Regions from separate parts of the Homo sapiens genome. Here region 1 is linked to region 2. Evidence: fine-mapped expression QTL. A gene starts in region 2. The other region holds a variant in brackets. All regions are shown on one strand. Distances are from middle to middle.

Region 1 (5,390 bases), 750 kb before region 2:
CAGGTCAGCCTACATGGCCCCAGAATCCATGCCACTGTCTACCAGGCCAGCACTTGCAGCTCACCAGGCCAGCAGCCATTGGACCCAGGAAACAGGCCTGCCACAGGGGACCCAAGTTCCAGTCTTGCTCTGGTGGATCCAGGTACTAGGCCATCCTCTAAGGACCCAGGTGCCAGACCAGCCTACCTGCTAATCCAGTGGCCAGGACAGCCTGCTGAAGGGCTGCAGCCACAACCCGACCTGCAGATTCTGCCAGATGCCCTTCCCAGAATCTCTGGACACTGAGTGGAGAAGGGCTTTCCCTGCCAAAACCAGGATGTAAACTGGAATAGATGCCTACTTCTTCAAATGCGCAGACACCAATGCAAAGCCACACAGATTATGAATAAACTGGGAAACATACTGCCAAAGGAAAAAAAAAAGATAAAGAATCAGTACTTAGCCCTAAAGAAATGTACAAACTGCCTGACAAATAATTTAAATTATCTTCAAGAAACTCAGTGAGCTACAGGAGAGCACATATAGAAAACTAAACAAAATGTATAGTTCACAAGAAAAAATAAGAAATTCAACAAAGAGAAACAATTAAAAAAGAAACAAAGTTCAGGAGCTAAAGAACAGAGTGAACAAACTAAAAAATTTCATTGAGAGCTTCAACAGAAGACTTGATAAAGCAGAAAAAAGAATCTGTCAGCTTGAAGACAGGTCACTTGAAATTACCCAATGAGACCAAGGGAAGAAAGAATGAAAGAGTAAACTAAGCTTACAGGGCTTACAGGACACCATCAAACCAGCCAAAGCATACATTACGTCCCAAAGGGGCAGATGAAGAGATAGGGGCAAAAAGCTTATGTGAAGAAATAGTGACAGAAAACTTCCCAAATCTGGAGAGATGAATATACAAATGGATCCATGAAGCCCAAAGAACCTCAAATATAAAGAAATCTTTACTCAGACATCATAAAATTGTCAAAGACAAAGAATCTTGAAAGCAGTAAGAGAAAAGTAACTCATCACACACAAAGGAACTTTCATGAGACCATCAGCAGATTTTCAGTGGAAACCATCCAGGCCAGGCGGACATGGGATGATATATTCCAACCGTGAAAGAAAACAACTGTCAATTAAGACTACTATATACAGAAGGCTGTCCTTCCAAAATGAAGGCAAGATAAGGACTTCCTCAGACAAACACAAGCTATGGCATTTCACCATCACTAAATCTGCCTTATAAGAAATGCCAAAGGAAGTTTTTCCAGGTTAAACGAAAGGATGCTACCAACACAAAAACAGATTAAAATATAAAATGCAAAGTAAAAATAGGAGTATTATCAAATTCAGATTACTCTGATACTGTATTACTTATGTTTGGTATTAATCACTTTTATTGTGTTATAAAAGCTAAAAAACAAAAATAATTCTAGGCACAATAACTGTGGTAATGGGAAGATTGTATAAAAAGATGTAAATTGTGAAATAAAAACATAAAAAGTGAGGGGAGGAGAAGTTAAAGTATAGAGTTTTTGTACACAGTCAAAGTTAAGTTGCTTATCAGTTTAAAATATGGTTACCCAATACTATAAAAGATATTTCTGTGAGCTTTAGGGTAACCACAAAGAAAAACTAAAGTAGATATGCAACAGATAAAGAAATCAAAGAAAGCCGCTAGAAATAAATAAATTACAAAGTAAGACACTGATACAGTTTGGATATTTGTCCCCTCCAAATCTCATGTTGAAATTTGATCCCTAATGTTGGAAGTAAGGCCTAGTGAAAGGTGTTTAAGTCAGAAGGGCACATCCTTCATGAATGGTTTAGCGTTGTCCTTGCAATAATGAGTGAGTTGCCACTCTATGAGTTCAAGGAAGAGCTTGTTGTTTTTCAAAGCCTGGCACACCCTTCCCCCCTCCCTTGCTCCCTCTCTTTCCATGTGACACACTGGTTCTTTTCACCTCTCAATATGACTGGAAGCTCCCATAAGCCCTTACCAGGAGCAGATGCTGCTGGTGGCATGCATCTTATACCGTCTTCCAAACTATGGGGAAAACCAGTCTCTTTTCTTTATAAATTACCCAGCTTCTGTTATTCTTTCACAGCAGCACAAAACAGACTAACAGACACCAAGAGAGGAAGAATAGAACAAAGGAACTACAAAACATTAAAAAAAAAATGGAATAGGATGTTATTTCCTACCAAAAATTACATTAAATTTAAACAAATTACCCAATCAAAAGAATCAAAGAGCTACCCAGGAATTAAAGAACACATTGAGTAAGCAAAAGTGATTTATGCCACACATAAGTTACCCAATCAAAAATTACCCATTCATACAGTAGCTAAATGAATCTTTAAAAAAGATCCAGCTATATGCTGCCTATAAGATAGTCATTTTTAGGTTTAAGAACAAATATAGGCTGAAAGTAAATAGATAGAAGGAGATATTCTATGCAAATCATAACCCAAAGAGAGCATGGGTAGCTATATTAATATCAGACAATATAAAAGTGAAGTCCAAAACTGTAACAAGAAACAAGGGCATTATATAGCAATAAAAGTGTCAGTTTATCAAAAGGATGTAACAATTTCAAATATATGTCACCCAACATTGGAGCACTTAATTTATAAAGCTAATATTAATATAACTGAGGGGAGAAATAGACAGCAATACGATAATAGTAGGGTACTTCAATACCTCACTGTTAGCAATGGACAGATCATCCAGACAGAAAATCAATAAGAAAACAGCAGACTTAAACAACACTATAGACCAAATGGCCCTA[A/G]CAGATATATAAAGAACATTCCATCAAACAGCAACAGAAAAAATTCTTTCCAAGTACACATGAAACATTCTCCAGGTTAGATCATGTTAGGCAACAAAAATGTCTTAACAAATTTAAGAAGACTGAAATTATATCAAGTTTTCTTCCCAACTATAGTGGCATGAAACTAGAAATCAATACTCGGAAGAAGATTGGAAATTCACAAATACATGGAATTAAAAATATACTCCTGAACAATCAATGGGTCAAAAAAAAGAGAAATAAAAAATATATTAAGACAAATAAAATAGAAAACACTATATCCAAACTTTTGGTATTTAGCAAAAGCAGTTCAGAAGGAAGTTTGTATAAATGCCTGTATTAAAGAAGAAAGAAAAATCTCAAAGAAACAACCTAAATTTATACCTTAAGAACTATAAAAAAGACCAAACTATGACCAAAGTCAGCAGAAGGAAGGAAATAATAAAGACCAGAGCAGAAATAAGACACGAGAAAAATAATGGGAAAAAAATCAATGAAACTGAGTTTTTTAAAAATAAAATTGACAAACCTTTAGCTAGACTAAATAGGTAAACAAAGAAGACTCAAGTAAAATTATAAAAGAGGAGATATCACAACTACTATCACAGAAATACAAAGAATCATAAGAGACTACTGTGAGCAATTATATGCCACCAAATTGAATGACATAGATGAAATGGAAAATTTCCTAGAAACATACAACCTACCAAGATATCATGAAGAAAAAGAAAATCTGAGAAGACCAAAAATGAGTGGGGAGATTGAATCCATAATCAAAAATCTCCCAACAAAGAAACTCTCAGGACCTGGGGACTTCACTCGCATATTTTATCAAACATTCAAATAATTAATGCTGATCCTTCTCAAACTGTTCCCCAAACATGATGACTGGAAATACTTTCAAATTCATTTTAGAAGGCCAGCATTATCCTGATACTAAAGCCAGACAAGGACACTACAGAAAAAAAAGAGTTATAAGCCACTATCCATGATGAGTATACACACAAAAATCCTCAACAGAATACTAGCAAAATGAATTAAACAGGACATTATAGCAATCATAGTATATGATCAAGTGGGATTTATTTCTGGAACGCGATGATGTTTTAACATACACGAATCAATAAATGCAATACACCACTTTAACAAAATGAAGTATAAAATTTATATGATCATCTGATAAAGAAAAAGCATTTGACAAAATTCAACATCATTTATGACATAAATTCTCAACAAATTAGGTACAGAAAGACTTGTACCTCAACATAATAAAGGCCATATATGACAAACTCACCACTAGCCTAATATTTAACAGTGAAAACCTGAAAGTATTTCCCCTAAAATCAGGAACAAGACAAGGATCCCCACTCTCACCACTTCTGTTCAATGTATTACTAGAAGTCCTGGCATGAGCAATTAGGTAAGAAAAAGAAAAAAAAAAAAGGCTTCCAAATTGGAAAGGGAGAATTAAAATCTTCTGTTTGCAGATGACATATTATATACAGAAAACCCTGAAGACCTTACCAAAAACCGTTAGAACAAATGAACAAATTCAGTAAAGTTGCAGGATACAAAATCAACATGCAAAAATCAGTAGTGTTTCTATATGCTAACAGTGAATAAATTAAGAAAACAATCTCATTTACAATAACATCGAAAATAAAATTTAATTCTTAGGAGTAAATTTCACCAAGGAAGTGAAAGATCTGCATACTGAACACAATAAATATTAATAAAAGAAATTAAAGACCCAAAAAATGAAAAGATATTCCATGTTCAAGGATTGAGTGAATATTGTTAAAATGGTCATACTACCCCAAAGCAATCTAACCCCTATCAAAATTCTAATGAAAATTTTCACAGAAATACGAAAAAGTATTCTTGAAATTCGCAATGCTGTGACACTTGCCTCTTCTGACTTTCAAATTTCTGTAACCCACCTCAGGATTATTAGGAGCTTATAAGCTGCTTTACAACATTAACAACTGCCATAGTCGAAGCAAATGTTTGACGCACTGGTTATAAGGTAAAATCTAGGGCCTGATTTCCCCATTCCCATCAAGCGACATCATGTGGTTTCATTCCAGAAATAATGGTTTTCCTTGCAGAGTTCAAAGAATTATTACAGTAAAACCCTACAATTTTGTTGCCATAAGATAAATTCATTTTGTCTAGCTTCACTAGAGTATTTTGTAGCTCTCCAACAAAGTGATCCTGTCTAATAGCATTGCTTCCTTGGGAACTGACATTCCTGAATCTATAACAGATTCATCACTGGCAATGCTGTCAAGCTACACTGAGTATAGAGGCCAATATGTAGTGAGCAAATAATCCACTAAACTAATTTCTTTTGCAAAAGACTCATTAACTAAGAAACCAAAATTAAAAGGCTATAGCAGTCATAATATTTGGAGATAAAATAGCTATAGACAAGGAATTACACATGAAGTCCAGGCAGATCAAAGCTGATGCAAGTCCCCTTCCTAACAGAAAGTTTGGGGAGTAGAGGCGGGGTGGGGTACAGCTCTGGTATGACTTAGTAGAATATTGCTAGGCTATAAGGAATTAAAAAAAAAAAAAAAACCTATG
Region 2 (5,314 bases):
AAGCCCTTGGGCTCCTAAGTGTTATGAGATCAGAGGGAAAGATCAAACACATGTGCCCTACTTTCACTTAGCAGTATCCAGATTTTTTTTTAAGACAGTCTTGCTGTGTTGCCCAGGCTGGAGTGCAGTGGCACAACTGCAACTCACTGCAGCCTCCGCCTCCCATGTTCAAGCAATTTTCGTGCCTCAGCCTCTCCAGTAGCTGGGTTTACAGGTGCGTTCTACTACACCCAGCTAATTTTTGTATTTTTAGTAAAGATGGAATTTCACCATGTTGGCCAAGCTGGTCTCGAACTCCTGACTTCAAGTGATCCACCCGCCTCGGCCTCCCAAAGTGTTGGCATTACAGGTGTGAGACACCGTGCCTGGCCGGTATCCAGATTTTTAAGTTTGCCAGGTATTATGTGAGCCATAGTTCCAAAAGTGTATATGCTTCTCATGAGTGGATGGACAATGCTCCTGGCATAGAGTAGGCTCTTAAAATTTCCTCATTTTAATTACTCGATGAAGGCACAATTGATCTAAGTTACACAATAAGGGTAAGGTACTAAATCTATTTTGCTCACAAAGGTGCTAAGGTTTGGGCAAAATATAAATCATTTGTTTTTAATTTAACAATACCTTTTGAGGTACAGTAGGGTCCACAGTTTCCCAAGGTTCTGGATTTTTTTTTCGATCAAGGCTAAAATTAAAGAAAGCCAATTAAACATTAAAAGATGTGAATTTAAACCAACACTGATACTGGGTTTATAAACATGTTAGGGACAAAACCAGTCTCATACTAAGGCATGTGTCTGCTAATGATCAGGAACCATCAGTAGCAACTAAAATTGATTGAAAATTCTCTAAGGGAGTTTCATGGTGTGGCTCAAACATTAAACATCAGTTCCCCTAAAGGGTAGGAGGTCTGTATTCTCTTGATTGGGCTGCATTGGGGAAGGATCCCACAAACCAAATAACCATGGGAGTGAAACTGCCAAGCCAAGGACATGCAATAATGTTCTTATCTCAGTCTGTGGGAGGGGCAGGTTGAACTCTGCAGGTGGTGAACTCCAGGGCTCTAGGCTCCTCTGCCAGCGGTTAGAGGACTGCCCTCTCCAGCCCTGCACCAGCCTCCAACAGTTTCAAGTTTATCTTTTCCTCATATTCCAGGATACATGTTTTTGTTTTTTACTTTCTTCTACCCAAAGTTGAGATTAGGTTCATCGTAGACAACTGAATCTATCAATTCTACCACATTAGTAAAAATCTAATAAGCTAAAATTTAAAATTTTAATTAAAATGATTGTTTCATGATATATATCTCCCAAAACCACTGAAGAACTTTAAATTTCAAAACTTAAAAAAAAAAAAACAAGCTTTACTTCACTGCCAGAGAGTGGAGAAGGGCCAATGGGTAAAAGAATAAACACAAGAAATAAACTAATTTGATTAATATCATGGGTTTTTTTAAATTTTTTCTTTTTTTTTTCTAATTTTCATTTTCTGACCCATTGGTAGACAATATCATAAGAGTTTTCTGATAAAAGATGCTTTTTAACCCTGACTCCCAGTTCACAATTTGGCATTCTCATCCATGGGAAAAAAATAGGAAACTTATACATTTCATAAACTAAAAGTCATCCAAACACTGCCAAAAACGTTTTTATAAATTGAGACCTACTTACATCACATCGGTTTTCCAAAGAGAATACACAGCGAAAGATGAGGCTCCACCCGCCGCCACAGTCATGAACACCACCAAGGGAATGAGCTAACAAATAACAGGTGGAGGGGACACATTTGGACACTTCAATATGAAACATTTGAAACACAGCAAAACAACTGTATTTATTTTATACTTTGTTCAAAATCTGTGCCATCTTTTCATCTTTAAAAATGAAAACTTTAGTCAAGATTTTCAATTGTTTTTAAAACTTACTTCCTTCCTTTTCATCAGGAGTTGGAAAAAGCTCATGATGACTTCAGCGAAGAATTGCCAAATCTAGAAATTAAAAATCCAAAGTATTGATCGCCTGGTGGGCGCCAAACCGTCCACCGCGCTCCGCAGGCCAACTGCGGGCCGGCGCGTCCGCGTCTCTGCAGATGGGAGACTCACCTGGACGCCGGGCGGTGCGCACGGACGATGGTAACGCCCGGAACCGAACGGGCCGGCGGCCTCCCCACCTTATATATAGCGACCACAACCGCCCCGGGTGGGCCGGGCCAGCGCGCTCTGGTCACGCGCGTGGGGCGGGGAGCGCGAGGGACCTGACTCGCTTTCCCCGTTGGGCACGCGACTCCCGGGCGCCCCCTGCAGGACATTCTGCGGCTGACGTGAAGCGCCCGAACGCGGGCGCTGGCGCCCCCTGCCGCTCGCCGCGGTCTTCCTTACCTGCCGACCCCGGTCGCTCTTGGCCCCCCTAGGTGCTTGTGAGGAGTTTGGAGGTTTGGGGAGTAGGAGGTGGAACCCCCTAAGAGGGGAGCGCAGATAGCCGAGGCCTGAGGGAAAGCCAACCCTTCTAAAAGGGTATCCGGGCCTGGCGCGGTGGCTTAGGACTGTAATCCCAACACTTTGGGAGGCTGAGGCAGGAGGATCACTCGAGTCCAGCCTGGCCAACGTGACGAAACCACGTCTCTACTAAAAAAAATTAGCGGGCGTGGTGCTGCATGCCTGCAGTCCCAGCTACTGAGGAGGGCGAGGCAGGAGAATCGCTTGAGTCCAGGCCTTTGAGGTCGCAGTGAGCCAAGATTACACCACTGTATTCCAGCCTGGGCAACAGAGCGAGACCCTGTTTTAAATAAAATAGAATAAAACAAAATATTTAAATAAGCAAATAAACAATAAAAGGGGGTCCGGAAAAATGAGCTGCAGACCGGAGGGTCCCAGGAGAGGCTCCCAGGTGCAGGCGGGTAAATTAGAATTAATCCAATCACATTAAAAGCTCCAAAATGTGGTCTGTGCACCTATGGAGATCATTAAAATTAAATTGTAAAGTTTATTTCAGAATAACTCCCAGGGCGTCCTGACTTTTTCTGCTAAAAAAAAAACCCAAAAAAACAAAAACAAACAAATAAACACAATAAAACAAAAACCCGAGGTCGAGGGAGAACAAACAAAAGAATAAGCTGGGGAGGCTGTCAGGAGAAGGTCTTTCTGCAAACGACCCTGCCGGCTGGTTTAGTCTTTGGGTTCCCTCCTAACTCTCCTCTAAGCCAGCAACCTCACTTTGCAGTTTGCAGGCGGCTGCAATGGTAACAATTTCACAGAGCCAGGGGCTGTGTGTGTGCCAGACACTGAGCCAGATTCCCCTCGGCAAGGTGGGTGCAAAGTCTTATTAAGACTCAGAGAGGCTCTGGTCACGTCACTGGTAAGTGGCGGCGATGCCATCAGAACGCAGGTCTGTCTGGTGCCCAACACCATGGTTCTGTCTGCACCCCTCTGTTAAATACTGCAATAAGTAAAGGACCAGTTATTTTAAAACAAACAGTTTGAAGTTCAAGCTGTAAGTTAAAGTTAAAAGGCAACATCTTAACGTTCCCTGAAATTGGCTAGACCCTGCTGTGTTTCAACCCCATTTTCATTCTAAACCTGGGTTTTGTAGTCAAATGGACCTGAGTTCAGAGCCTGCCCCTGCTATACTTATTATTAATAGCTGACTTTAAGTAAACTACTTAACCTTCATGAGTTTCAGTTTATATATCTGCAAAATGGGGGCAAACCTGGCAGGGGAGAGAGTTGGAAAAAATGTTAGAATATATGTAAAGCATTCTGTCCTGCTTGTAGTAGGCACTCAACAAATAGTTACTATATGCAAAGATTTGGTTTTTTGTTTGTTTTGTTTTTTGAGCCAGAGTCTCGCTCTGTCACCCTGGCTGGAGTGCAGTGGTGTGATCTCGGCTCACTGCAACCTCTGCTTCATGGGCTAAAGCGACTCTCATGCCTCAGTCTCCTGGGCATCTGGGAATACAGGCATGTGCCACCACGCCCCGCTAATTTTTGTATTTTTAGTAGAGACAGGTTTTGCAACGTTGGCCAGGCTAGTTTTGAACTCCTGACCTCAGGTGATCCGCCCCCCTCAGCCTCCTAAAGTGCTGGGATTATGGGTGTGAACCACCACGCCCAGCCTCAAAGATTTGTTTTATGTAAGGCTGATCATAAATGTAGTTTCCCACTCCCTTACTCTGGCAAGCGTTCTTACTGTTTAACCCCAGAACTGTAACTAGAGACATTTGCTAATTGGATGGATCTACGTTATATACTTCAAAGAAAATTCAACATTAATTCTCCTTGGTTTGTATTACCTAGAATCAGAGAAGCCTTTTAATGAAAGACTTCTAAGGCTACTTCTGTCAGAAGATTCTACAAAAAAACCTCATGTTATTAAGAAACAGAAGTTTTTCTAGGATGGAAGGAAGGGAGGGAGAGAGAAAGAGAAACAGGACGAAGAGAGAGAGAAGAAGAAGAAATAAATTTTACATTAGTATTTCATGAGCCCAAAATTGAAATTAAAAATGTGTAGCCATTGCCTATTAATGACCTTAAACACAGAGCCGTGCTTTGCCAGTATCATTTCTTTTCAAAATGTAATGCAGTTTTTTAGTAGTCTAGGCATTATTCTGAGGATGGGGGCATAGCAGAATTAAAAAGAGTAGTAAGACACAAATCACTTACTTCAAGGTGCTTGCAATTTAGTAACTCTAAATAACTCTAATGCAAGGCATGATCTGTTGCCAAGACAGGTGATTAATTCTAACTAAGGGGGTCTGAGAAAACTTACCAAAGGTGGGGTATTTATTTGAATATACAAAAAGACAAATCAACTGTAAAAAGACATTTTGGGGGCAAGTGGGAAACTTAAATAGGATCCAGACATTAGATGATATTAAAGGGATATTGTTAAGTTTCTTAGGTGTGATAATAGTATTGCAGTTTATATATATATATAACTGCAATATATATATAACTGCAATAACTGCAATATATATATATCTCGGCTCACTGCAACCTCTGCCTCCCAGGTTCAAACAATTCTCCTGCCTCAGCTTCCCGAGTAGCTGAGACCATGGGCGCCCGCCACCATGCCCAGCTAATTTTTGTATTTTTAGTAGAGAGGGGGTTTCACCGTGTTGGCCAGGATGGTCTCAATCTCTTGACCTCGTGATCAGCCCGCCTTGGCCTCCCAAAGTGCTGGGATTACAGGTGTGAGCCACCGCGCCTGGCCGGCGATTATATTTTTTAAATGGCCTCTCCCTTTTTCAGAGCTTGTATGTGGAAATATTTAAGGGAGAAATATTATGATGTCTGGGATTTACTTTAAAATATTTCAACTAG

Direction of the effects. Alleles are on the strand shown, and positions count from the first base shown. SD is a standard deviation of normalised expression in the study named.
With allele A in place of G in region 1, the expression in whole blood of the gene that starts at base 2,144 in region 2 is higher (moderate effect, 0.54 SD a copy in GTEx).

The links. PIP is the estimated chance that this variant, and not a neighbour inherited with it, causes the effect.
Region 1: its variant is fine-mapped to the expression of COXFA4L3 in whole blood (GTEx, PIP above 0.99).

Annotation. Positions count from the first base shown.
Region 1 is chr15:46,177,966-46,183,355 of GRCh38, reverse strand. No RefSeq gene overlaps it. Among named protein-coding and RNA genes, the nearest start is that of SQOR, 550 kb to the right of the region's middle. The variant A/G (reference allele first, on the strand shown) is at 2,781.
Region 2 is chr15:45,427,440-45,432,753 of GRCh38, reverse strand. It overlaps COXFA4L3 (cytochrome c oxidase associated subunit FA4L3), which reads right to left and starts at 2,144. Exons shown (of 5, transcript NM_197955.3): 1 at 2,099-2,144; 2 at 1,922-1,984; 3 at 1,668-1,753; 4 at 622-682. The coding sequence starts at 1,957. RefSeq lists a silencer at 2,122-2,201.